4 linked regions of the Homo sapiens genome follow. The protein of the gene in region 2 binds, or shares a complex with, the protein of the main gene of each other region. Each region holds a gene or a part of one and is shown on either strand. Other genes may lie near its edges. The genes, in order: GPKOW, EFTUD2, SNRNP200 and CRNKL1.

What was found.
Region 1: EFTUD2 (region 2) and GPKOW share a complex: the UniProt entries of both Homo sapiens proteins name them as parts of the minor spliceosome.
Region 3: EFTUD2 (region 2) and SNRNP200 share a complex: the UniProt entries of both Homo sapiens proteins name them as parts of the minor spliceosome.
Region 4: EFTUD2 (region 2) and CRNKL1 share a complex: the UniProt entries of both Homo sapiens proteins name them as parts of the minor spliceosome.

The regions. Positions count from the first base shown.
Region 1 is NC_000023.11:49,120,712-49,127,700, forward strand, and holds the start of GPKOW (G-patch domain and KOW motifs-containing protein), read right to left. Parts: upstream 3,025-6,989; 5' UTR 3,012-3,024; coding exon 2,836-3,011; intron 2,066-2,835; coding exon 1,911-2,065; intron 1,812-1,910; coding exon 1,687-1,811; intron 1-1,686. UniProt on the Homo sapiens protein: RNA-binding protein involved in pre-mRNA splicing. As a component of the minor spliceosome, involved in the splicing of U12-type introns in pre-mRNAs.
Region 2 is NC_000017.11:44,889,421-44,896,446, reverse strand, and holds part of EFTUD2 (116 kDa U5 small nuclear ribonucleoprotein component), read left to right. Parts: intron 1-1,921; 5' UTR 1,922-1,925; coding exon 1,926-2,030; intron 2,031-7,026. UniProt on the Homo sapiens protein: Required for pre-mRNA splicing as component of the spliceosome, including pre-catalytic, catalytic and post-catalytic spliceosomal complexes. Component of the U5 snRNP and the U4/U6-U5 tri-snRNP complex, a building block of the spliceosome.
Region 3 is NC_000002.12:96,288,521-96,295,546, forward strand, and holds part of SNRNP200 (U5 small nuclear ribonucleoprotein 200 kDa helicase), read right to left. Parts: coding exon 6,968-7,026; intron 4,990-6,967; coding exon 4,796-4,989; intron 4,576-4,795; coding exon 4,452-4,575; intron 3,381-4,451; coding exon 3,231-3,380; intron 2,983-3,230; coding exon 2,872-2,982; intron 2,296-2,871; coding exon 2,164-2,295; intron 1,995-2,163; coding exon 1,806-1,994; intron 1,477-1,805; coding exon 1,279-1,476; intron 860-1,278; coding exon 707-859; intron 598-706; coding exon 517-597; intron 227-516; coding exon 143-226; intron 1-142. UniProt on the Homo sapiens protein: Catalyzes the ATP-dependent unwinding of U4/U6 RNA duplices, an essential step in the assembly of a catalytically active spliceosome. Plays a role in pre-mRNA splicing as a core component of precatalytic, catalytic and postcatalytic spliceosomal complexes.
Region 4 is NC_000020.11:20,049,441-20,056,507, forward strand, and holds the start of CRNKL1 (crooked neck-like protein 1), read right to left. Parts: upstream 2,903-7,067; coding exon 2,852-2,902; intron 1,183-2,851; coding exon 1,030-1,182; intron 1-1,029. UniProt on the Homo sapiens protein: Involved in pre-mRNA splicing process. As a component of the minor spliceosome, involved in the splicing of U12-type introns in pre-mRNAs.

The sequences.
Region 1 (6,989 bases), on a different chromosome or scaffold from region 2:
GGAGTGCAGTTGCATGATCTCAGCTCACTGCAACCTCAGTCTCCTGGGTTCAAGCGATTCTCCTGCCTCAGCCTCCCGAGTAGCTGTGATTACAGGCACGTGCCACCATGCCCAGCTAATTTTTGTATTTTTACTAGTGATGGGGTTTCGCCATGTTGGCCAGGCTGGTCTTGAACTCCTGACCTCAGGTGATCCGCTGGCCTCAGCCTCTCAAAGTGTTGGGATTACAGGCGTGAGCCACCGCCCCTGGCTGACTCCAAGGTTTTTATGCTGAGTGAGAGGAAGGATGGATGGAATTTTTGGTCACCTGATATGTAGAAAGCTGCAGGAGGAGGTTTATAGAGGGAAAAATTAGAAGAATGAGGCCAAAGCTGGAACAGGATGAAAGGATGAAGAGGGAAGTGAGGATCTTTTTTTTCTTTAAAGATGAAGGAGCTGGGCACAGTGGCTCACGCCGGTAATCCCAGCACTTTGGGAGGCTGAGGTGGGTAGATCACTTGAGGTCAGGAGTTCAAGGCCAGCCTGACCAACGTGGCGAAACCTCGTCTCTACTAAAAATACAAAAATTAGCCAGGCGGTAGTGACACGTGTCTGTAATCCCAGCTACTTGGGAGGCTGAGGCAGGAGAATCGCTTGATCCCAGGACCGGGAGGTTGCAGTGAGCCGAGATCACACCACTTCACTCCAGCCTGGGCGACAGGGCAAGACTCTATCTCAAAAAACAAAAAACAAACAAACAAAAAAATGTTGAAGGAAACCAGGGCACATCTGAAGGCTGAAGAGAACAGTTCAGTTGAAAGAGAGAGTGGTGTGGGGCTGTAGAAGAACTAGACTCAAAAGAAGCAGTGCAAGAAATTTATGAAAGAAGAGGTGAAAAGTCAGGTCTGTGGGTATGAAAGACAGACTTGGTTACTTCTGTAGACATGCCTCTCACGTCCCCTCTTGTCACCTCCCATCATCACTCCTTCCCATTCACTCCAGATACACCACATGTTGCCTCACTGATGGACACACCATATCGATTTTCTACCACTATGCCATTGCTTGGGCTGTTACTACTAACAGGAGTACTCACTCTGTTCTTCCCTCTCTCACTAAACCCTACTTATCCTTCCAGACCACTCTGGTCTAAGTCCCCAGCATCTCTAGCCTGGACTACTCATCCCCTTGCTTCCACCTTCACTAATGAGTCTGTTCACAGCTTCCAGAGGGATACTGTCAAATCATAAATCATATTTCATCTATGCTCAGGGCTTGTCCAGGCTCTCATCTCACTCAGAGTAAAAGCCAAAGTCCTCACAATGGCCTACAAGGCCCTGCCTGGTCTAGCACCCCCATCTCCTTTCTGACTTCGTCTACTACCCCTTCCCCTTACTCATTCCACTTCAGTCACACTGGTCTCCTTGGTGTTCCGCAAACACTTTAGGCAGTGTCTACCTTCAGGGCCTTTACATTTCCTGTTCCCTTTGCTGCACACCTCATTCAGATAATCCTAGGATTCAAGTACGTTTTTAGCATCCAGATACCCAGATTCATTTGGTAATGCTTCCAAAATGATGACAGGAGAAGGGGCAGGTGGCGGGCCTCTAGCACACACACAGACTTTCCCTGCTACGTGCAGGGACACAGCCTGGCGGACAGGGCAAAGAAAGGCTGGGGCAGGAGGGGGACAAGGGGCCAGCTCACTGTCTCTGCCCGGGGTTCGCTGTCTGCCCCTTCCCCGCTGGGGGTGCATCCTTTCTGGATCATGGGGATAGCGAGCGTGGGGTCGACACCCGCATTCTCTCTCTCTTCCAGAGACTTCTTGGATTCTAAAGGAAGAATAGGAGGGAGCAATGAAGTCCCACTCTATCCTTCCACCTTCTTCCTCTTCTTCCTTCAATGGGGAAGGGTAAAGGGGTATCACTCACCCGCAATGAGCTCCTTCACAGCCTGGGACACCACCCCATCCGCCAAGGCCCCAGTATCTGTGGATGGCCCAGGGGGCCGGGCTGGTGGCTGCCTGCGATGGCCATTCTGGATCAAAGGGATGACGAGTTCCTTGGGGGCCTCCTGGGGCTTCACACTGATGTGGACACAGAGGGGTGGGGTTGGGAGAATGGCAGGGTCAGTGGGTCACACTCCTTCATTCAGAGAAAACACAAGAGCCAAACTCACCCCAGCCCCACAGACCATGTCTTCCCTACTCCATGTCTGGATCTCCTGTTCCTCTCTGATCGTGCATTCTCTGGATTATCTCCCCAGTGCCCCCAACTCATAAATGTCAGTGCCTTCGAGAAATAAGTCCTGCACTCTCTGTTTAACTCAATACCGGCTTCTACAATGGCCCACAAATCACTATCTTCAGCCCAGACCTTCCCCAGCTCCAGGTTCCCAAACAGCTTCCTAGATGCCTGATTCTCTTCTGGAAATCCCTCCCTCAGACCCCTCAGACACTCCTCTCCTCATTAAGCTGATGGTGGCCTCCATCAACCTGAATCTGCCGCTCCATCCCGTTCCCCATATCGGGGACGCCTCAGCCCTTCAGTTGAGACACTAGCAGGTCCTGTCATTTTCTCATTCTTTCCTTCTCCCAGAACGCACAGACCTTAGTGTCTTCAAGTCCTAAAGACACTTCTTCTCAGTAATACATCCTCTCTTCGCAATTCCCACAGCTATCAGGCCCAATTTCCTCACCCCCTCCTATAAACTCCCGCCTTCTGGCCTCCACGAATTTACTCAGGCTGTGCTTCAGGCTTAACAGGTCACTGTCACCAAGACAAACAACTGAGATTCCTCCCTCCCGCTTACGCCCACCGCAGAGATTTCCAAGGGGTGAAAGACCCGGCGCGTCACCTCTGCAGCTCCCTCCCTTCCACGGTTTTCAAGAAATCCTTCTCCTCCGGAGATGGCCCCGCGCCGTCTCCCGAGTCGGCCAGCCGCCTCCGTGCGGACGTGCGAGTGAAGCCGAATGAAATTGGGGCAGTGGAAGCAGCCGTCAGCGGCAAAACACCCTCTTTGGAGTCAGCCATCTTGCTCCTTTTCCCAGGCCGGCGCGCTGCTTGCTGGGAAATTTAGTTTGGGTTCAGATCGCTAGGGGCCGGCCAAAGTGCGTAAAAACTACCTTCCCATCAACCACTGTGGCACCGGCGGGAGGGGGCGGTAAGGGGCCGTGGGAAGTAATTGTCGCTCTTTCAAACGTGGTGGGAGCGCGTCGCGCCAAGCGCCCAGGGAAATGTAGTTTTTTTTTTGTTTGTTTTGTTTTGTTTTTTAAGATGGAGTCTCGCTCTGTTTCACAGGCTGGAGTGCAGTGGCGTGATCTCGGCTCACTGCAACCTCCGCCTCCCAGGTTCAAGCGATTCTCCTGCCTCAGCCTCCCGAGTAGCTGAGACTAAAGGCATGCGCCACCACGCCTGGCTAATTTTTGTATTTTTAGTAGAGACGGGGTTTCACCGTGTTAGCCAGGATGGTCTCGATTTCCTGACCTCGTGATTCTCCTGCCTCGGCCTCCCACAGTGCTGGGATTACAGGTGTGAGCCACCACGCCTGGCTGGAAATGTAGTTTTTAGCGGGGTAGGCATGGTGGAAGGTGGATTCATTCTTGCCAGACATTAATCTTCCTTCGTGTAGGCGTTTGACAAGTATTTATGGAGCGCCTAATGTGTGCCCTACTTATGTGGGAAGTGTTGATGAAGTAAATCATTTAGAAATAATCAGCTGGGTGTGGTGGCGCGCACCTGTAGTTCCATTTACTCCGCAGGCTGAGGCAGGAGGATGGCCTGAGGCCTGGGAATTCGAGGCTGCACTTAGCTCTTATCGCACCACTGCATTCCAGCCTGGGTGACAGAGCGAGACCCCATCTCTAAAAAAGAAAAAGGTCGGGGGTGGGGGGGATGGAGCGTCAGTTGTGTACAATAATAAATAATAGACATAAAATAAATAATAGACATAAAAAACCCCGTCTCTACTGAAAATACAAAAATTAGAGGGGTGTGGTGGCTCATGCCTGTAATCCCAGCATTTTGGGAGGCCGAGGCTGGTGGATCACCTGAGGTCAGGACTTTGAGACCAGCCTGACTCATATGGTGAAACCCTGTCTCTACTAAAAATACAAAAATTAGCCGGGCGTGGTGGTGGCGCCTGTATCCCCAGCTACTTGGGAGGCTGAGACAGGAGGATTGCTTGAATCCGGGAGACAGAGTTTGCAGTGAGCCGAGATCCTGCCACTGCACTCCAGCCTGGGCGACAGAGCGAGACTCCGTCTTAAAAAAGAAAAAAGAAAGAAAGAAAGAAATAGTGCCTATTGGCCAGGCTCATACCCGTAATCCCAGCACTTTAGGAGGCCGAGGCGGGCGGATCACTTGAGGCCAGTAGTTCGAGACCAGCCTGGCCAACATGGTGAAACCCCGTCTCTACTGAAAATACAAAAATTAGCGGGGTGTGGTGGCGCATGCCTGTAATCCCAGCTACTCGGGAGGTTGAGGCAGGAGAATCGCTTGAACCCGGGAGGCGGAGGTTACAGTGAGCCGAGATCTCAACACTCCGGCCTGGGCTATAGAGTGACACTCAGTCTCAAAAACAAAAGAAAAACAAAAGAAAAACAAAAAAAAAAAAAAAAAAAAAAGAAAAAGAATAGTGCCTACTGATGTCAGATTTTAATACTCAACAAGGCACTAGATTCAAATATCAATAAAATAGGCTGGGCACAGTGGCTCATGCCTGTAATCCCAGCACTTTGGGAGACCTAGGCGGGCGGACCACCTGAGGTCAAGAGTTTGAGACCAGCCTGGCCAACATGGCAAAACCCAATCTCCACTAAAAATACAAAAATTAGCCGGGTGTGGTGGCACATGCTTGTAATCCCAGCTACTCGGGAGGTGGAGGCAGGAGAATCGCTTGAACCTAGTAGGTGGAAGTTGCAGTGAGCCAAGATTGCCCCACTGCACTCCAGCCTGGGCAACAGAGCGAGACTCTGTCTCAAAAAAAAAAAAAAAGAAAAAGAAAAGAAAAAGAAAAAAAAGAAACTTGTAGTCTAGTAGGGAATACAGACATTTAAATACATATTTTAAAAATATAGCAACATGTGCCGAGCTTAGTGGCTCACGCCTATAATCCCAGCACTTTGGGAGGCCTAGGCAGGAGGATTGTTTGAGCTCAGGACTTTGAGACCACCCTGGGCAACCTAGTGACACCCTGACTCTACAAAAAAATTTAAAAATTAATGGGGTGTGGTGGCGCACATCTGTGGACCCAGCTACTCAGAGGGCTGAGGGGGGAGGATCACTTCAGCCCAGGAGGTTGAGGATGCACTGAGCGGTGATCAGGCCACAGCACTACAGCCTGGGCAACACACACACATATACATATAGCAACATTAAACATATTGTGAGAACCAGGTCCTAAGGCTTCAAAGATTACTGATATGAAGGAAAAATGAAGCAGTCAGAAAATTAAAAAAAAAAAAGATTATTGAGACAGATCTCTCTTGTGTAGGACCTCAAGAGTTCATACAGGCAGGGTGCGGTGGTTCATGCCTGTAATCCCAGCACTCTGAGAAGCCGAGGCAGGTGGATCACTTGAGGCCAGGAGTTCAAGACCAACCTGGCAAACATGGCAAAACTCTGTCTCTACTAAACATACAAAAATTGGCCGGGCATGGTGGCAGGCGCCTGTGGTTCCAGCTACTCAGGAGGCTGAGGCATGAGAATCGCTTGAACCCGGGAGGTGGAGGTTGCAGTGAGCCGAGATCACGTCATTGCACTCCAGCTTGGGCGACAGAGTGAAACTCTGCCTTAGAAAATGAAAAAAAATTTAAAATGAAAAAAAAAAAGAGTTTATACAGAGTGGCTTATACAGAGTTGCTGGGTGTGGTGGCTCACACCTGTACTTTCAGCACTATGGGAGGCTGAGGCAGGAGGATTACTTGAGGCCAGGAGTTGGTGGATACAGTGAGCTATGATCGTGGCACTGCACTATAGCTTGTGTGACAGAGCAAGATCCTGCCTCTAAAAAAGTAAATAAGTAAAATAAAAATAAAATAGTTTGTACAGTAGATGACAGATACTTAAATATTCTTAAGAAAGAGTAATATAATTCTGCTACAAATTAGGCTCAAGGATATCATTGAAGATGTGTAAAATAATTTTTTATGAGATTCATTATCATATTATTGTGGCAAAAGCTTGAAGACCACTTAAATTATCAACAGAAGGGGATGCAGTAAATGAATTACAGCACACACCTTGGATGAAAGAAATACGCCTTTACATTGGAAGTTGTAAATAAATATATATATATAAAATATATATATATATACATATATATTTTTTTTGAGACAGGGTCTCACTCTGTTGCCCAGGCTGGAGTGTAGTGGTGTGATTTCGGCTCACTGCAACCTCCACCTCCCAGGTTCAAGCGATTCTCGTGCCTCAGCCTCCTGAGTAGCTGGGATTAGAGGTGCCTGACACAACGCTGGGCTAATTTTTCTATTTTCAGTAGAGGTGGGATTTTGCCATGTTGGCCAGGTTAGTCTCAAACTCCTCACCTCAGGTAATCCGACTGCCTTGGCCTCCCAAAGTGCTGAGATTACAGGCGTGAGTCACTGCATGACCAGCTGCTATAAATATAATTAAATGGACTGGGCACGGTGGCTCATGCCTATAATCCCAGCGCTTTGGGAGGCTGAGGCAGGCAGATCCTCTGAGGTCGGGAGTTCGAGACCAGCCTGGCCAACATGGTGAAACCCCATCTGTACTAAAAATAAAAAATTAGCCATGTGTGGTAGTGGTTACCGATAATCCCAGTTACTCGGGAGGCTGAGGCAGGAGCATCGCTTGAACCCAGGAGGCAGGGGTTGTGGTGAGCTGAGATTGTGCCACTGGACTCCAGCCTGGGTGACAGAGCTAAACTCCCTCTCAAATAAATAAATAAATAAATAAATAAAAGAAAAGAAAAGAAAAAAATATAAAATTGAATGAAATGGGGACATACCATATTTTGGAAGGTAAATT
Region 2 (7,026 bases):
CTCTATCTCCTGACCTCATGATCCGCCCATCTTGGCCTGCCAAAGTGCTGGGATTACAGGCATGAGCCACTGTGCCCAGCCAGTTAACTACTATTTAAGACAAAATTAAATACTGATAAAGGTGCAAAAAGCTCTAGTAGGATAGAGGAATGAGAAATTGAGGAGCTAGGAAAGCTTGAAGGAGGTGGTGGCATTTGAACTGTTTCTTTGAATAGAATTTCAGTAATTGAAGTGGAGAAAACCCACAAAACACTACTTAATTACAAAGGGAAAATGAGTAACTTTACAATGGAGAGGCCTGGCAAACATCACCTTAATGAAGTGATCAAAGTTAACGTTACCACTAATGGGGCAAATTGAAATCATGTATCACCTGATACGAAATGCATTGAGAAGAACACAGCATCACTTCTATGATATTCCTGCCCAAAACGCATAACCTGAATATTATCATAAGGTAACATCAGACAACCTCAAATCAAGGGACATCCTTAAGGATTTCATGACAGTCCTTGGAAGGAAAGACTGAAGATTGTAGATCCAAAGACTGAAGATTGTAGATCCAAAGAGACTAGAGACATGACAACCAAATGCAAACATGATCCTGGATTGGATCCTTAGGTGTGTAAGGTATTATTGGAACAATCTGTGAAACTTGAATGGGATCTGTAAAGAAGGTGGTAGTAATGTGTGAATATCAATTTTCTGATTTTGATGGTTGTATTGTGGTTATGTAGGAGAATGTTCTTGTTTGTAGGAATTACACATGGTGAGGGAGAGGTTGGCAAACTTTTTCTATTAAGGACTGGATAATATTTTAGGCTTTGTGAGCCATATGGTTTCAGTCTCAACTATTCAACTCTGCTATTACAGTGTGAAGGCAACTGTAAATGATGCAAATGAATATGCATGGCTGTTTTCCAGTGAAACTTTTTTTTTTTTTTTTTTTTTGAGATGGAGTCTTGTTCTGTCTCCCAGGCTGGAGTGCAGTGGTGCCATCTCGCCTCACTGCAACCTCCACCCCCTGGGTTCAAGGGATTCTCCTATATCAGCCTCCTGAGTAGCTGGGATTACAGGTGTGAGCCACCGTACCCAGCTAATTTTTGTATTTTTAGTAGAGACAGCGTTTTGCCATGTTGGCCAGGCTGGTCTCGAACTCCTGACCTCAGGTCATCTGCCTGCCTTGGCCTCCCAAAGTGCTGGTATTACAGGCATGCGCCACCGCGCCCGGCCTCCCAATGAAACTTTTTTAATAGACACTGACATTTGAATTCCTTATAATTAATTTTCATGTATCATGAAATATTTTTCTTTTGACTTTTTCCCTGGCAATTTACAAATGTGAAAAAGCATTCTTAGCTTGAGGGCCATGTAAAAACAGCTGGAGGGGCCAGATTTGGCCACAGGCCAGAGTTTGCCCACCCTTACACTAAAGTATTAGGAGGTGATGAGCCATTGTGTCAACAGCTCACTTTCAAATAATTTAGGAAAAAGTAAGTTATTTGTACTGTTCTTGCCATTTTTTGATACTGAGTTGTTTTAAAATTAAATTTAGTATTAAAAAAGTGGAGGGAGGGGGACCTCCTCTTTTGGCTTTGGAGCGCCCCCCACGCCCCATCTCTGTACGGCGGAGCTTCTTCCTTCTGTCTTCTTTCTTCCTTCTTGCCTATTCAACTCTCTGCTCCTTAAAACCCAAAACAAGAAAAGTGGAGGGAAGACTACATAAATAGAGACAAGTAAGGCAGAGACTTGGGGAAAGTACTGGGCTTTGGGAGGAGCATTCAGTAGGTTGATGTCACTGGAGAGGAGGCATGTGAAAGGGGTATGGCCAACCATAAGACTAAGACTAGACAGGTGGAGCCACCACATGAAGGCCTTGATTACCTTGTCAGAATCTAACTCTTCTCTCCTTGAATTTTAGCATCATGGATACCGACTTATATGATGAGTTTGGGAATTATATTGGACCAGAGCTTGATTCTGATGAAGATGATGATGAATTGGGTAGAGAGACCAAAGATCTTGATGAGGTAAAACAAATATATTGCTCTTTTATCTCACTCTTATTTATTTTATTTAAGACAAGATCTCACTCTCTTGCCAGGTTGGAGTGCAGTGGCGCAATCTCAGCTCACTGCAACCTCCACCTCCTGGGCTTAAGTGATCCTCCCACCTTGGCCTCCCAAGTAGCTGGGACTACAGGTATGCACCACCATGCCCAGCTAATTTTTTTTTATTTTTCGTGGAGATGAAACATTGCCCAGGCTGGTCTTGAACTCCTGAGCTCGAGCAGTCCACCTGCCTTGGCCTCCCAAACTGCTAGGATTACAGGCATGAGCCACCATGCCCAGCCCCCTCTTTTTTCTTTTTTTTTTTTTTGAGACAGTCTCACCCTGTTGCCCAGGCAGGAGCGCAGTGGCACCATCTTGGCTCACTGCAGCCTCTGCCTCCCAGGTCCAAGCAATTCTCAATGCCTCAGCCTCCTGAGTAGCTGGGATTACAGGTGTGTGCCACCATGCCCGGCTAATGTTTTTTGTATTTTTAGTAGAGACAGGGTTTCACTATGTTGTCCAGGCTGGTCTTGAAGTCCTGACTTCAAGCAATCCACCTGCCTTGGCCTCCCAAAGAGCTGGGATTATAGGCATGAGCCACCATGCCTGCCCCCCCACCCCCCCCCCCACCTTTTTTTAAAAAACAATGAAATTTTGAATCCTCTGTGTTCCAGTGATACCCTGGGTACGTCTCTTGAGATTGTCCTTTTTATAACATGACTTAGTGGGATCTCATACTGCTCCAGCAAAGCTTCGCTACTAAGGTTCCAAAAGGGAATATGTAGTTTCATTGATGAGATGGTTTTGTAATCTGAGCTCTAGTTGATCATTAGTTCTTCCATTTCCCTGAAGTGTCTTTTAACAGTCATGAATAATTCCCACTTGGAAAAGATACTCAACTCTTCCAGCTACAGCTGCACTGGGAGCTCCCTCACAAGCTCAGATTTTCAGAGATGCATAAAAGCAATAGAAAGGGCCCGGGCGTGGTGGCTCATGCCTGTAATCCCAGCACCTTGGGAGGCCAAGGTGGTCAGATCACACGGTCAGGAGTTCAAGACTAACCTGACCAATACGGTGAAACCCCGTCTCTACTAAAAATACAAATATTAGCCAGGCTTGTTGGCGCGTGCCTGTAGTCCCAGCTGCTTGGAAGGCCGAGGCAGGAAAATCACTTGAACACGGGAGGCGGAGGTTGCAGTGAGCCAAGATTGTGCCACTGTACTCCAGCCTGGGCAACAAGAGTGAGACTCGGTCTCAAACAAAAAAAAAAAAAAATGACTGTTGAGTACTTAGGAAGCTAGCATGAGTTTTATAAAAATAATTTTCTCTTGATAGGATTACTAGGTTGAGCCACAGGTCAGGGGCATGCTGTGGACATGATGTATCTTGATTTGGGCAAGACATTTGAAGTTTTTTATTGATGTCTTATAAACCAGCATTTTTTTTTCTTTTTGAAAATAAGGTTTACAGTCAGGTGTGGTGGCTTACGCCTGTAATTCCAGCATTTTGGGAGGCTGAGGCGCTTGAGCCCAGGAGTTTGAGACCAGCCTGGCCAACATGGTGAAACCCCGTCTCTACTAAAATACAAAAATTAGCTGGGTGTGGTGGTACATGCCTGTAATCCCAGCTACTCAGGAGGCTGAGGCAGGAGAATTGCTTGAACCCGGGAGGTAGACGTTGCAGTGAGCTGAGATCGAGCCACTGCTCTCCAGCCTGGGTGACACAGCGAGACTCCATCTCAAAAAAAAAAAAAAAAAAAAAAAAGGTTTTACAGTGTGTTTTTCTTTAATTATATAGGTAATTCATGAATACATTCTCATTCAAACCATGTTGATAGAAAGGTTTCCTTTGTTCTCATTCCATTCACTCTTCTTCCCCAGTTAACCTCTGTAACTCATGATGTCCTAGTGAAAAGAACATGGGCTGCATCATAATACAATTAGAGGAGGTCACAGCTGGTTGAACAGTGGGACACAAAGATTTTTGATTAATGGGTCACCAGCAGAGCTCTTGTGACATGTCCTAGGCATCTGTGTTTGGTCTTGTCCTTTTCAACTTAAAATATATTTAAATAGAGACAAGGTTTCACTATGTTGCTCAGGCTGGTGTTGAACTCCTGGGCTCAAGCAATCTGCCTGCCTTGGCCTCCCAAAATGCTGAGATTACATAGGGGAACCATTGTGCCCCGTCATTCAGCCTATTAGTGACTTGGGTAAAGATAGAGAACAGAGGTTTATCTAATTTGCACATGACATAAAACTAATGTATTGGATAACAGAATCTAAATTCAAAGTGATCCCAACATACATGAATTTGGGACTAAAAACCCAGTAATAGGCCAGGCGTGGTGGCTCACACATGTAATCCCAGCACTTTGGGAGGCTGAAGCGGGCAGATCACTTGAGGTCAGGAGTTCGAGACCAGCCTGGCCAACGTGGTGTGAAACCGTCTCTACTAAAAATACAAAAAATTAGTTGGGTGTGCTGGTGCGCGCCTGTAATCCCAGCTACTCGGGAGGCTGAGGCAGGATTTTTTTGTTGGGAGTGAGGGCAGGTGGAATTGGTAAGTAACAGAGTTTCTTTTTAGGGTGATGAAAATGATCTAAAATTGATCGTGGTGATGGTTGCACAATTCTGTGAATATACTAAAAACTATTATGCACTTAAAATGGATAGATTGTATGGAATGTGAATTATATCTCTATAAAGCTATTAACAAAAAAATTTTTAAAATAAAGAATAATGGGCTAAACACTTAGTGGCTCACACCTATAACCCCAGCACTTTGGAAGGTCAAGGCAGGAGGATCACTTGAACCGAGGAGTTTGAGACCAGCTTGGGCAATGTAGTGAGACCCCATTTCTACAAAAAATTTAAAAATTAGCCAAGCATGGTGGTACATGCCAGTAGTCACAGCTACTCAGGAGACTGAGGCAGGAGGATGGCTTGAGCCCAGGAATTTGAGGTAGTGGTGAGCTATGGTCATGCCACTGCACTCTAGCGTGGGCAACAGAGTGAGACCCTATGAAGGTTTTTACCTCAGTACAAACAGTTGAGTCACTCATACTCTTTAGTTCTTACTCCTCAGTGTCATTGCTGTGAGAGCTCTGCTGTTATTTAATTAATTTGTTAATTCCCATTTATCTCATTCCCATACCTGCCACCACAGTTCTTTGTAATTTATGTATGTTTCTTTTTCTATGAGTTGCATAGTGTGTGTGTATTTTAAGTAAATGGTATCATTGTCTGCATTGTTCTGTTTCTTTTCCCACTCAGCATCATGATGAGTGGTGCATTTTAGGGTTTCTCCCTGTTGCTGTGTGTACATCTAGTCTGTGGGAACTGACTGCTACTCGGTTTGCCCTGGTGACATTCCTCTCTTAGTGATAGACACCAAGGTTACCTGTCACCAGCCTTCCCTCGCCGTAATTAATAATCCAGTGTACATTCTCATATGTGTCCCTTTATGCAATGTGGAAAAATTTCTTTGGGTTATATTCCCAAGAGCAGAGTTGCTGGTTGTAGGATATTATATCTCTATCTACATATGCTTATTGTATTTATACTTAGTTAATATGTTTATACTAAGTACTGTCAGATTGCCCTTTAAAATGGCTGTACTGGTCTACCCTCTTTCCAGCAGAATGAGGGTTATAGCCTCCTAGTCCACAAGATGCATAGATTTATTATTATTGTTATTTTTTGAGATGGAGTTTCGCTCTTGTTGCCCAGGCTGGAGTGCAATGGCATGATCTCGGCTCACTGTAACCTCCACCTCCCGGGTTCAAGCGATTCTCCTGCCTCAGCCTCCCGAGTAGCTGGGATTACAGGCATGTGCGTCCACGCCCGGCTAGTTTTGTATTTTTAGTAGAGATGGGGTTTCTCCGTGTTGGTCAGACTGGTCTCGAACTCCCAACCTTAGGTGATCTGCCCGCCTCAGCCTCTCAAAGTGCTGGGATTACAGGTGTGAGCCACCGCACCTGGACAGATTTTTTTTTTTAATTATATTGAGGTATATAACAGTAGAGATGCATAGATTTTGGTAATGGGGACAGGAAAGAAAGATGTCCCTTCTAAGGCTGGGTGCGTTGGCTCATGCCTGTAATCCCAGCACTTTGGGAGGCTGAGGTGGGCAGATGACCTGAGGTCAAGAGTTCGAGACCAGTCTGGCCAACGTGATGAAACCCTGTCTCTATTAAAAATACAAAAATACAAAAATACAAAAATTAGCTGGGCGTGGTGGCATGCGCCTGGGTGGCATGCCCAGAGGCTAAGGCAGGAGAATCTCTTGAACCCAGGAGGCAGAGGTTGCAGTGAGCTGAGATCGCGCCACTGCACTCCAGCCCCGGCAAACAAGAGTGAAACTCCATCTCAAAAAAATAAAAAAATTAAAAATTAGAAAAAGCAATGATAAAAGAATATTTGTTTAGTTTTATTTGTTTAGACTTGTTGAGCTACTGTAGACTCGGATAGAGATAATTACAGGCAGTCAGAAATTATTATATAAAATCCTGCAGTTAGATTCATAATATATTCAGCAGTATGGGGCAGGAGAAAACTGGCTTGATAGCTATTTGGAGCCACCACCAGTAGGATATATGTGGCTGCCAAAAGAGCTAATGTAATCTTAGGCCACTTTAGTAGAAGTAGAGTGTAAGATGGTAGGAGGTAGCCGGTCTCACCACTGGAGGGTTTTGTGTTCTTAAGGAAGAGGTTGGCATGCTGGAATTTGTGTGAAGGAAAACAAGCACCCAGCAGTCCCTCTACCCACCTGCCTACATCTGTACTCATATACGATGCCTTCCCTTCCGTTCTTACGAATGATTTGTTCATGTTTCTGTCTACTAGAAACTAATCCCATCCCTTCTCACCACTCAAGACCTTTGGCAATTCTGCCCTCTCTCTCCTGTGCCATCAGTTTTCCCTGTCTACAGGATCATCCCCATCAGCATACACAGATAAAATGTCATTTCATC
Region 3 (7,026 bases), on a different chromosome or scaffold from region 2:
AACCAACTACCCGGCAAGAGCAGAACTAAGCACTCCTCCCATCTCACTAGGGTCGGGCCTCCTTTCCCCAGGATGCACACAGCACACAGGGATTGAACTGTTCAGGCCCCTTCTCACAGCTGCCATACAACTCCGCTCTCACCTGTGTGACATACACCATGTCAGCCATCAGTGCAAAGCCCTCCAATTTCAGCTGTGAGATGAAGGCTTGCAGAAGAACGTTGATCTGTAAAGAAGCAAAATCAGCCAGCAGGAGACCAATCACTGAACAGTCCAAGAAAGGGAATTACATTTCTGCTCTGAGCATCCAGGCCAGGTGAGATTTGCTACAGGTCTTGATTTACAAATACTAAATAATTGTTATTTCATATAAAAAGAACATGCGAGAAGGCTGCAAAAACTAGGAGAACTGAGCAGGAAACCACACATGAACCCAAATTCAAGGTTCATCTTTTAGAAGATTATGAAAACCACTTAATCCTCATCCTTATCAAAGCAAAGAGGAGAGGAGCTCACCTTAGCACTGGGTTCCTCAATGCTCTCCTTTACAGGGATAGGCACCCTCTCCAGCAACTTCTGCAGCTCCAGCTTCTCCTCCTGCCACAAGGAGGAAAAGGTCAAGGGAAAGCCTTGTGGCCGAGGAGGGACACCATTCAGTGACTTGGTGAGCACCAACTCCCCGCCCCATCATGCTGCATAGGCTCACCTCTCTCACTGTGATGTTCTTGAACTCAGAGGACAATGAGAAGACCCTGAAAAGCTCAATCTCACTCAGGGTGGGCTTCAGCAGCTGGTTGTAAGTCTGCACTGTATCATTGGTGATGTAGTAGTGGCTGGCTATACGGCCCAGTTCTGTCACCTGGAGAGAAGGTAGACTCAATCCAGTGCTGACTATTAATGAGCTCCAACCTCTAACTGTGGACCATAAGTTACTGTCCTATAGGTTTTTTGTACTTTTTTTTTGGTAAAGTATATGACCCAATGTCATTATTGTCCTAATAGGACAACTGGATGAAGTCACAGCAGTACAAGTGCCAGGCCCAGGCACATGAAGAAAAACAGCAGAATAAGCTGACCCATAGTGAAATGATGTCTGCACGGACAAGACAGCTGAATTATCCACCTCAAGTTATGGGAAAAGCTACCCATTTTTCTGCTGTTCTAAGCAACAGGTGATTAGATAGGCAGTACTCACATCAAGAGAGCAATCTGAAAAATTTTTTCCTGGGCCAACAACTTTTGCTGAGACCTTTGCCTCAAAACCCTCACCCCACGCACCTGGAAGTTGCCCGTCTTCTTGTCGTACTTGACCAGATTGTTCTTGTCCAGCATCAGGGCAGCTGTATGAACCAGATCTAGTCGGCGCTGGTCCAGCAGGGGATCTCCCTTGAGGTCATCATGAGAGATGCCATAGAGGGTTGGGGATCGCAGCATTCGGATATAGAGGTAGGCATAGCCCAGCCAGTTCACCGCATCCTACAAGACACAGCTCATGGTTCTTAGCATGGAGAAACTCTTGATGTCCAAATGACAGGCTCCCATGAATTGCTTAGAAATTAATTCCCAACTACAAGGATGCATATTACATCGTATTCTGAATGTTTTTAGCATTTCATTATTAAAAAGATCTAAGCGTCTTCTAAGATCTTGGTAACAAGGGGAACTATCTGCCAGACCCAAGATGTGGGTGCAGGGATGGAAGGCCTCGGACGCTGCTGGCCCGCAGCACAATAGGGACCGACCCACTCCTGGTGCCTTGGTGTCTGCGGGGAAAGCATGAAGCACAACAAGCAGTCCTCCCCTACCTTGGCATTCTGGACATTTCCTAGCACGATTTCTGCATTGAGCATGTCAGGAAGCTTTGAAACCATCTGGCTTTCAATAGGAAGTTGTTGATTGAGGAGGGACAGGTAGTACTGTAGCTCCCCATGAGATGTGATGAGTATGCCTTCACCCTTGGTGTCATACTGGGGTCTTCCGGCACGTCCCAGCATCTAGATCAGAGACAGCGAACCAAGAATGCTATGTCAAGAGAATGTCTGAATTTTGATGCAGGTATCTACATTACAGAACTAGACCTCTGATCTGCTAGCTTTCCAGCATCCCTGCATTTCAGGCAAGGATACTGATCCCTGCTGAGAATAAACTCAAAAGGCTCTGTACCTGCAGAATGTCCAGTGCTCCCAGTTCTGTCCAACGCCCCTTCTCTGGACTGTACACCTGGGTGCCTTTGATGATGACTGTATGTGCAGGGAGATTCACACCCCAAGCTAGAGTTGCTGTGGAAACTAAAACCTACAGAGGCAAAACAAGGTAATGAGGAGAACAGATGCCATCACCAGGGGTTAATATCCCTGGCTTCTCTAGGCAGTTGGCCTCAGAGCTTCTCTCAGGACTAGCCGGTAGGGCGCGTGGGGTCCCAGTACTTGTCAATGTGACACCAGAATAAAGAGGAAAGGTTTCCTTGGGTTCCTCATCTATTCAGTAATGAACATTTCAAGGTTCCAGAGGCACAAGTGCAGACTTGTATTAAACAACCTTAAAGTTACTAGAAAAGGTAAAACAGAGCCTATCCGGAAAGAGGGAACGACAAGGGCACGCGTGCCCCCATGAGACACTGTTTGGAGCTATCTGAAGTCACCAAAGTGCTTGCTTCACTATGCTTCTCAGACTATCCTAAACTCAAGCAAGGTGGGAAGAGTTGGGAGAGTAGCATAAGGTTCTATTTATTGTGTCCACCACAACCCTCTGACCTGGGCTAGCTGGGCCAGAAGCAATAAAGTACCAGGAGCAAACATGGCACAAACTTGACATTGCCCATCTTCTGAAGTATGTCCCACCTGCTCCTCCAAACGCTTTGCACCCCCTCACCTGAATATGTTTATCAGCAAAAAGATCCTCCACGAGTGTTCGGTCAACCCTGGTCATGCCTGCGTGATGAATAGCAAAGCCATAAGGCAGAAGATCCTTCAGCTCTAGGTTCTGTGGAACAAAGAACCGGGGATGAGGCGAGCCTTCCTGTAGGACTCATCCAAGGACTAAGGAAATCTCCTCCCATGAGACCCTGCCCCTTAACTATTATGTGGAATAGTAATAATCACATCCAGACAATCAACCTTAACCCATGGGAAACAACAATACCACAGTACAGTCCTAGAGGAGCTGTCTGGGGCCTGAGATGGACACAGCTGCCAGGTAGGAATGAGAGAACCCAGCTGGCCCCTCCTCACCTTGCACTGCTCAGCTTCTGTTCGCAGGACTTCTGTGGAGGCTGAGCCCTCCCTCAGAAACAGACCCAGAGTGTCCTTTTCTAGGCACATGTCCCGGATGGCCCTGGCTGTCTTTCCAGTCTCCTTCCGGGAGTGGACAAACACCAGCACCTAAGGAGAAGCCACAGTTTGCTACAGTCACGAGATACTCACAGCCCCAGGGCACCTGCAGCAGGAAGCAGAAGTTGCACCATCACCACCAGAAGCCAAGGTCCTGGAGAGGGGCAAGGGCAGGAATGTGTGCAGGCTCAGAGGAAGCCTAAACACGGCTGGAAAGACTTTTAAGGGAATGCACCCACCAAGTTCACAGTCCTGGAGCTGAGAAATTAAACCAACTTCAACATCCTATCTTGAACAGCAACTTTAAATAGACTACAACTACAAATTCGGGCCTCTCAACTCAGAATTTATGTTCAAGCACCTAACAAGAGTCAAAGCTGCATGAAAATGTGTCTGCAAAATAACAACTAAAACATTACACTACTTATAAAAGGATTTAGGAAATAAGTCTGAGACTAGTACACTGTTGTAGGGAATGAAGTCTTCCTAGTATTTAGTGCCAAGAAAAGATCTGTCTCTTCATATAAATTCATATGCTTCTTTTCATCAGACAAAAAGAAATACAAAACCAGTCACTTTTCCTTATTTTTTGTTAGTTAACATTGCTCAACTCGACTTTCAATTTAAAAATTCTATCACACTGTCTAGTAAAATGCCCTCTAGTTTTTCATTTTCCTCTTTTTATTGTCTTGCATTTTTAGTGTAAGTGACCCCAAATCTTTTATGGAGGGACCCTGGATAATGCGAATGCACAAAACAATTATCTGGGACTGGGGATTGCTTGCTGGGGGGATTTTTAATTCTCCAACTCTCTAATAGTTGTAGGGCTCTTCATGTTATCTATTTCATCTGGGCTGAGTTTTGCTAGTTAACTGGTAGTTGTTGGAGAACTGGTCCATTTCTTCTGAATTTTTAAAGTTATGAGCATAAAATTACTCATAGTATTCCCTTATTATCCTTCCAGTGGCTATAGGTTCTGTAGTAATATCCCATTTCATAGCTGATATTGGTGATTTATGTTGTGTCTTCTCTCTTTTAATTTCTGTCAATCTTCCCCAATTATTGGTGAATCAAACATTCGAAAGAATGGGGTTCAAGAGTAACCATAAACCACGGGCAAACCTGATTTTTTCCAGCATGTTCCATGATTTTTTCATAGACGATTTCATTCATGATCTGGAAACGCTTGATAGCTTTTTTCTCTGTGATACCCACATATGTCTGTTCCAGAGGCACTGGACGGAAGCTAGAAGTTCAACAGTTAGACAAATGAGGCTTTGGCAGAAAATACTGTGGGAATAAACAGTCTTTTTCACTGCCCCAAGAGCAATATTCCTCCTTTATGATTCACACCACATCAAAACCCAAAGGCCCTTCTAAAACCCAACCCAGTAGCACTCCTTGGAAAAGAGGAAAGAGAGCAGGATGGTCACCTTGGCAGAACTTTGCCCAGTCTTTCCTGATACCTGTTGTCAAAGTAAAAGAGACCCTTGGCAGGGTCAACACGTAGAAAGGTGGCTACATCTTCATAGTTGGGTAGGGTGGCACTGAGACCAATGAGTCGGACATCCTCTTGGGTCATCTCAATGTTTCGGATGGCCCTGGCCACTAAAGCTTCTAAGACAGGACCTCTGTCATCGTGGAGAAGATGAATCTCATCCTACGGAATTGGAGGACAGAAATTACCTCTAGCACTAGAGATACATAGTCCCTTTTCCTGGAATTGTCCCATATTGTAGGCATATAACCTAATATGCCTAAGAAAAAAGACAAGGGATCCCAAGCCACAGATGCCCAAAGGATGGAGACAATATTTCCCATGAAATACTCCAGAAAGTAACAGACTCTGACCATGAGTTGCTTTGGTACAGTTCAGTAACATACTTTGTATAAAGAAATTCTGAAACTCAGATAAATGAGTTTAAACTTTACTTAAAGGTAAACTTCTTTATGAAAAAGGATATAAATATGATCTGATCAGAAGCTTCACCTCTGGCAGTTATAGTTCCCAAGAACAAAAGCTATCACACATCAAATGATGAGTTTGAATAGTCTAAAGCAGTGCATCTCAAATTTTATTAAGTATCCCAAAGCCAGGGGATGTTGTTAAAAAGGAGATTGTATTCAGCAGGTGTGGGGTGAGGCCACAAATCCTGCATTTCTAACAAGCTCCTATTCCATGCTGCTGCTGCTATGACCCCAACCATGGATCAGGCTTCAAGTAGCAAAGCTCTAAAGCAGGGACCAGAAATGTTTTTTTTAAAAAGTCAGATGCTCCATCTCAAAAAAAAAAAAAAAAAAAAGCCGGGGGCAGTGGCTCACGCCTGTAATCCCAGCACTTTGGGAGGCTGAGGTAGGTGCATCACCCAAGGCCAGGAGTTCGAGACCAGCCTGGCCATCAGATTGGTGAAACCCCATTTCTACTAAAAATACAAAAAATTAGCTGGGCATGGTGGCGGGCAACTGTAATCCCAGCTACTCGGGAGACTGAGGCAGGAGAACTGCTTGAACCCGGGAGGCGGAGGCTGTAGTGAGCTGAGATTGCATCATCGCACTCCAGCCTGGGCAACAAGAGTGAAACTCCGTCTAAAAAAAAAAAGCCAGACAGTCAGTATTTCAGGCTTTGGCCCACGCAGCCCCTATTGCAAATACTCAGCTCTGCCATTGCAGCCAAAAGCAGCTGTAAACAATACATAAACAAATGGGTGTAACTATGTTCCAACAGAACAAAGCCAGTACCCACAGACTGCCAACCCCTGCTCCAGAACACTGAAAACCAACACGTGAAGTCTCCTTTCTTGCTTTTCCCAGACAACTTAAACTATACTCAGACTTAGTCACTAATCTCTGGAAGTTTCTGTGTATATGGAATACAATATCCTGCTTCCTCACTCATTCCCTCAGAGAATGGATTCTTTTACTTATAAAACCCTAAATGATGTTGGATATGATGGTTTTTTGTCTATCTGTTTACATTTGTTTCAAAATATTTCAGACATAGCTTCTTGGCCTTTTGGCTTAAGATCAAGTGTAGTAAAATATTTCAGACATAAAAAAATATATAAAGAATAACATGGCAGGCTAGGCGCAGTGGCTCACGCTTGTAATCCCAGAACTTTGGGAGGCTGAGGTGGGTAGATCACGAGGTCAGGAGTTCGAGACCAGCCTGGCCAACACAGTGAAACCCAGTCTCTACTAAAAATATAAAAATTAGCTGGGCATGGTGGCAGGCGCCTGTAATTCCAGCTACAGGGGAGGCTGAGGCAGGAGAATTGCTTGAACTCGGGAGGCAGAGGCTGCAGTGAGCCAAGATCGTGCCACTGTACTCAGCCTGGGCGACAGAGCTAGACTCCATCTCAAACAAACAAACAAACAAATAAATAAATAAATAAGATGGCAAACACAAGCTGACAATAGCTGTCATTATAATGTTTTGGATGGCCCTGGCCACCAAAGCTTCTAAGACAGGACCTCTGTCATCGTGGAGAAGATGGATCTCATCCTACGGAATTGGAGGACTAGTCATTACAAAGGCTAGTGCCTACAGAAAAGGCAGCAAAGAAACATTTCGCATGAAAACCCAGCAAACCCGCCCTGACACAACTGGACTCTATATTCTACGACTGCTCCCAACTCACCAGAATGATGAGCCGCACCAGCTGGGTGTAGGTGCGCTCACCACCCTTGCGGGTGATGA
Region 4 (7,067 bases), on a different chromosome or scaffold from region 2:
GGCAAAAAGGGTCAAGTCAAAAGACAAATGACTAAAAATGACAGCACCCTTGGTCTATTTTAAGTCTTGTACTAAAATGGTTATTCATTTTGTTCATATTTAAGAGAAATTACATCCTGGAATCCTTGAGGAATAAGAAACCCACTACAGAAGGTTACAGTCAACTAACTGATACTTTAAAATGGTCTATGCTTGTCCCTAATAAAAAATGTTTTTGACTATTACCTTTAAGTCCTCTGGTAATTCTCAGAATTTCATATATAACAGCATTAGTGCTTTAAAACAGTCCCACATTCTAGAGTGAAGAGGTCAAATCAGATCCCAAAGTCTTCTCATGGTCCTTTTGCAGACCTCAATTCCTTTTCCTTTCTTTCTTTCTTTCTTTTTTTTTTTTTGAGACAAAGTCTTGCTCTGTCGCCCAGGCTGGAGTGCAGTGGCACGATCTCGGCTCACTGCAGCCTCTGCCTCCCGAGTTGCTGTGATTCTCATGTCTCAGCCTCCCGAATAGCTGGGATTACAGGCACCTGCCACCACGCCTGGCTAATTTTTGTATTTTAGTAGAGATGGGGTTTCACCATGTTGGCTAGGCTGGTCTCAAACTCCTGACCTCAGGTGATCTGCCCGCCTCGGCCTCCCAAAGTGTTGGGATTACAGGCGCGAGCCACTGTGCCCAGCCAGATCTCAATTCTTAACACAGAAGGTGGTATAGACAGAAGTACACAGTGCAGCCTTACTAAGCATACCCTCCTTCTTGTTGTCAGTTGTTCCATCTGCTAAACTTCCGCTCACTTTGATTCAGCATCAAAAATTATGCAGATTCAATTTCTTTACACTTTAACCAGACAACTCATGGCATATTTTATATAGTTCAGAAAAATGCTGTTATCTGGTAACCAGAAGTACATTATTCATGCGTCTGGAAACACTTAACCTCATCTTGCCCTACAGAATCCAACCAATGAGGAGCTTTTCAAACTGACCGATACAGTCTTAACAATTAGTGGACTGAAAGATACCACACTGACTGACCTTCCTTTTCCTTAGTTTATAATCATTTAATTCTTCTTCATCTGTGATCTTCTGTTGAGGTGGAGGTGGAAGAAGCTCAAGTTCTCTTTCTTTAGCCTCTCTTAAGAGTTGTTCAGCAGTTATCTGTACCTCAGCCGGGGCTTTGTTTTTCACCTTTTAAGAAAGAAGACATTTCTATTTTTAGTAGTTGCTCTTCACACAAGGCTTAAGAAACAAACATACATTTTTTAGGATATGAACTTTGTTAGTATTATCACAAGATGCCCTTTTTGTATGACATGTTCCCATTCCTCCATGAGACTGAAAAGAAAAAAAAAATACCGTTTTCTCTCTTATTCATAGTATCTACTGCAAAGCCATAGGTAAAAGTCTCAAGAGAAAAAGGTGGCAAAAATAATAGCAAGTTTTCCCTTTTAGATGAGTATAATAATAAACTTTGAGGCCGTCTAGGTAAAATTCTGACCAGAGGTTTTGTTTTATCAAAATGTGTAGCACATCTTATTAACAGCATTACAACCTGCATTTACAGAATTCTTCAACTTATTTAATGCCCCGGTGTATAACTGGGTTTGGTTTTACATGGCACTTCAAGTCAAAGGCAATTTCAGTAAGTTCTCATCATTAGACTGTAAGCTTCTTGAGGTCTTAGAAGCTTACAGTCTAACGTAGCTTAGAGCTGTGCTGTCCAACACAGTAGCTATGAGTCACATGTGGTGAGTACAAATTGAGGTGGACTGTAAGTGTAAAATACACATTGGTTTTGAAGATGAAGTATAAAAAAGAATAAACTACCTCATTACATTTTTTATACCGATTACATGTTGAAATGATAATATTTTGGATACATTAGCTCAAATAAAATATATATTATCAAAATTAATTTCACTTTTTTGCTTTGTTTTTACTTTTTAATGTAGATATGAGAAAATTTAAAATTTCATATGTGGTGTGCATTATATTTCCATTGGACCAGTGATGCCCAATAAAAGTTTATGTAGCTGAATTATAAAAAATGTTACTTAATGCCACATGTGGAGTAATGATGATAATGGTGATAGCTCATATTTAATAAGCACTAAGTGCCAGACACAGTGTTACTTGCTCTATATGCATTACTCCTGCGAGTCAGACAAATAGTTATGTAAAGGTCCAGTTCAAGAGAGTCATCCGGGCTCAAGAAAGACTGGAGGGAGGGTATCTGTAAAGGCTTCAAAGTCTGCCACATATTAAGCACTTGGTAAGTATTAGCTATCAAAGGAAATACCAGATAGTAAGTCTACTGTTTAATTAACTTATGATACTATACTACTCCTACCGTCTACTCTCGCCCTCCGCTGTCAGCTGGGCTAACTCCTATTCAGCCTTCAAGTCTCAGCTTAAAGGTCATTTCCTCAGCAAAATTTACTTTCAGGACCCCTTCATACGACCCCCTTATTCACGCCCATGGCATATTCTACTTTGCCTCTCGGTAACATCTAGCAAGGTCGTCTTTATACAGAAACTCGTGTTTTGAGTACTGCTTGTGGCCAGCGTACGAGCGTAGCTTCCCAGCGCCCAGTGCAGTGCCTGGCTCAGTAAATCTTCACCGAACCACCCCACTCCACTCCCCAGCAAAACCACCCCAGAACGAAGGCCACGCCAACGCGGGTCGTGCTCCGCGATGACAAGAGCCCGCGCCCCACCACCAGCTGCCCTTCCTCTCCATCTCTCAGGGTGAGCCTTCTCCCCGGCGGGAACACTCTCTCCCAACCCGGGCACCCTCAGGGCTGAGGGATGCCCCTTTCCTAGGCCACCTCCTACAAGGCCCCTCGCGATCGCCTACCTTGGCCACTTTGGGAATCCGCTGCTTCCCGGCCGCGGTGGAGGCCGCCATGTCTGCAGCAGTCGACCTCTGGACACCTGTCCCCGGCACGGACGCTAGAAATCGGCTCTGAGAGCTCACCGAAACCACAAAGCTTTCAGAAAACAAACAGGATCTCGGAACCGGAAGCGGAACTTGCAGGACTGACCTTTGACCTCTCGCTTGAGCCGTGACGGAGGCGGCACCGTTTCCATGGTGACCAGGCTGCGCGTCCTCCTTGCGGCAGCGCGTGGAGTGCGGCGTCCTGGAGCTGCGGATGAGGTGGGTAACGCCGTGCTGACTAGCAGCGACGCAAGGACTGCGGTGCAGGGCGTCCAGGGCGCATCCCCAGGTCAGCCTCCGGAACTGGGATGACCAGGCGAGGACGAGTGGCTCTGTCGAGCCGTGGCGCCCTGCAAGGGAGTAAGAACGGAGCTCCAATCTGGATGCTCGAGGGCGGGGGAAGAAGGGAGAGCGAGGAAACTACCATTCCCAGCATGCGACGGGGCGAGCTGCCGCCCTTTTAGGCTGCAATGCCTCGAGCATTGCATTCTAGTAGTCTCTGGGTCCACGCCCCCTCGTTTCTGGTTTCGGGACAGTTGTGCCCAAATAATTCTAAGGTGCCCAAATAATTAACTCTAAGGCTTGGAATTAAAAATAACAGAAGGTACTTTGAAGCCAGATATTAGGAAAAAATATAAATAGAGTAACTGGAAAACAACTCAGTCTTGTGATAAGAAACATGTTTAAATTCTGTGTGTGCCTTAATTACTCTAGTTAAATTTTCTTAGCCTCAATGTCCTCAACTATAAAACAAGGCTAATAACATCTGTTTCACTAGGATTAAAGACAAATGCTCAGTAGATGTTAGCTGTTATAATACTTAACCTGCCCTCAAAAACTGAAAAGCAAAGGTTAAGAGAATTTTTTTTAATAGACATTTTTAGAGAAGTTTTAGGTTCACAACAAAATTAAGTGGAAGACACAGAGATTTCCTCCCTCCACAGCTTCCTGCTATCAATTATTGTACCTCTTCCCTCCTCTAACAGCCTCCAACTCTTAAAAATATCCTCCACCAGAGCAGTACATTTGTTACAATCTTGAACCTACATTGACACATCATTATCACCCAAAGTTCATAGTTTATATTAGGGTTCACTCTTGGTGTACATTCTATGAGGTTGGACAAATGTATAATGACATGACTTGGCAGCTCATTTGTTAGGATAATTTCCACAGTTGCAAAGCTCTTTTGGTGTTTGGGGAAAATATATATTTATGTATGTAGTAATATCACGTCTACCAATGCAGATATTACTTTCAACAAAAGATTTATGCAGATTTCTAGAACTGCAGTCAGTTATAACCAACATCAATGTATTTGCCATAACTCTTTATTAACCATATTATTTAGATATTTTATCTCACTTTTCAAAATTTAAATAGAGAAGATTTTATATCACTTTCATAAAGCCACCTAACAAAATAAATAAATATTAAAAAGATGTTTCTTTGAAGTGATTTTCCTTAAATGTGTTACTGTAAACAATTGATTTACCAAATGAATCATTGGTTTAATCATCTGTTGCCTTTGCTCAAAAGTACAAACATGCTAGAATACTTTGCTTCTGATCACCATCCTTCTCTCTTACATTTCTGTTGTCTGGCAATTCAGTTCATCTCTGTGTGTGTTTTTTTTGTTTGTTTTTTTTTTTTTTTTTTTTTAGGAAAAATGTATTATCCTTCTTACTTTTTGCCATCAATGCTTTTGTAGATATACCTTCATGTTTACCTTCTTATTTCCCAGCATTTAATCTTGTATTCCACTTCTTTCTGATTTTATTCTTCTCAGAATATACCATCTCCTAGTTCTTTCTACAAGATTCTTTGAATTCTTTCAGTCTTTGTATGAAATTGTCTTTATTTTATCTTCATTTTAAAGTGATTGTTTAGGTTTATCAGTCTAGGTTAATGGTTATTTTTTCCTTTTATATTTTTAAAACACTATTCTAGTAGTTAGAAAACTATGGGCCGTAGACTAAATTCAGCCCATTGACTATTTTGTATGGACTGTGAATGAGCTAGGGATATATATATATATATATACACACACACATACATACACATATACACACACACATTTTACATTAAACTTTATATGTAGTTTACATTTTAAACATTTTTTAAAAATTACATGGCACATGAAAATTATACATAAGTCAACTTTCAGTGTATGTAAGTAAAATTTTGTGGGAATACATTCATGCTCATTTGTGCCGATATTGTCTCTGGTTGTTACTGTGCTACAATGGCAGAGTTGACTAGTTGTGTAGACAACATGTGGCTCATAAAGCTTAATGTATTTATTCTCTGGCCTTTTACAGAAGTTTGCTAACCCCCGTGCTACTGGCTTCTAATGTTGCTCATGAGAAATATTCTGTCAGTCTAATTATTTTTTATAGACAGTCTGTCTTTTGTCAGGTTCCTTTAAAGTTTTCTGTTTGTCTTTAGGGTTTTGTAGTTTTACTATATATTTGGAGTTTATTTGTATTTTTTGCTCTGAACTGAAGGTTCATGTCTTTCATCCATGCTAAAAGTAATTAGCCATTATTTTCAAATGTTTCATTTATTCCTTTTGGAATTCCCATAAGACAGATGTTTTTCATTCTGTCTTACATGTGTCTTTACTGAATTCTGTATTTTCTGTTTCTATGTGCTTCTTTCTAGATAATTTGTTCATAAGTATCTTCCAGTTTATTTTCTTTATTCTTCTGTTTTTAACCCATCCTCTTAGTTTAAATTTTAATAACCACGTATTTCATTTTTTAAGTTTCTGTTCTTTTTTAAATAATGACCTGTTCTCTTCTCATGACTTTTGTTTCTCTTTCTATATTTCTTTATTATAAACATACTTAGTTTGTAGTCTGTTTCAGAGTCTATCATCTAAAGTTCTTGGTGACTCCCATAATACACAGATTGTGTGGACTAGAATGCCATACCCACTTTAGTCTAGAATTTGGACTTCTCAGCAGTATTTTTGCTTTATTTTCTACCTAGAGCTTTGTGTAGAGAAAGCTTGTCACTTTCTTGGGCTGGTGAGTTTAATTTTTCTAGCCCCCTCACTTACCGAGGGGCCCATCCAAAGTCCCAGGTAGATGCATGGTTTAATTTTTAATTCTCTGTTTGGAGTGAGGTCCATTCTATCCCCAAAACCTGTGTCAGATCGGCTCACATCATTGCCACCTGGTTGGAGAATTTCCCTCGCTCGCTTTCTTTCTTCTTTTCTTGTTTTCTTTTTACCAAAGTCAGTTATCTAATTAATTATACTTCCTTATTTTATTCAGAATTTTTATATACTTGTAGCATTAGTTTATGATATGTTTCACAAACAAGATGTCTCATTCCAATTTTGCTTTCAATTTAAAACCAGAACAAGGAATGACAATATTTATGGTTAGCTTCGATAGGAGTCTAGACATTATTAATTTCTCCTTCATTGTTTTCCCTGTTTTGAGCTCACTGGCTAGTATATAATAAAATGGCTTTCCCTATGAAGGAAAGAAGGGAGGGAAAGAGAGAAGAGAGACTTACAGAAATTGAGACAATGAGAGAGAAATTGAAATCATTTTGTGACCTACTGTTTTTGTCAACAGCATTTCCCAAAGTGTCCTTCTGGAACGTTAGGTTCTCCACTGTTGCCGTCATTAGAGATTCTCTTCCCAAAGAGTGTCGGAAAGGCTGGGTTATACAAAGAAAACAAGTTGCTTTATTATGGAACCTCTCAAAGATGTTAATGGGCCTGGTGGCCCTTCAGGAAGCCTATTGCGAGCATTTCCTACACTTAACCACAGAACTTTTTTGGTCTCAAAATATGTCTCAAGACTGCTGACCTTCAGGGCTCCAGTTTGGAGAACTCTATTAAGAACATAGGCAGCAGCTGTCAGTATTTCCCCAGTAACTCTTCACCACATGCCATCGTGGCCGATTAAATATAAGAGGACCCTGAATCCGTAAATAATTCCTTTCAATGTTTTTCCAATTCTATTGTTAGAATTTTTTAAAGCAGCTTTGTTGGAAACAAAGAATATAGTTGCAGAAACTTCTAAACAGGCCAGTTCTCAGAAACTTCATTCTCCTATGGAGGAACGTCAGCTGGTTTGCAGTGACAGTTGTCACAGACTACACCCAGGGGAAAACG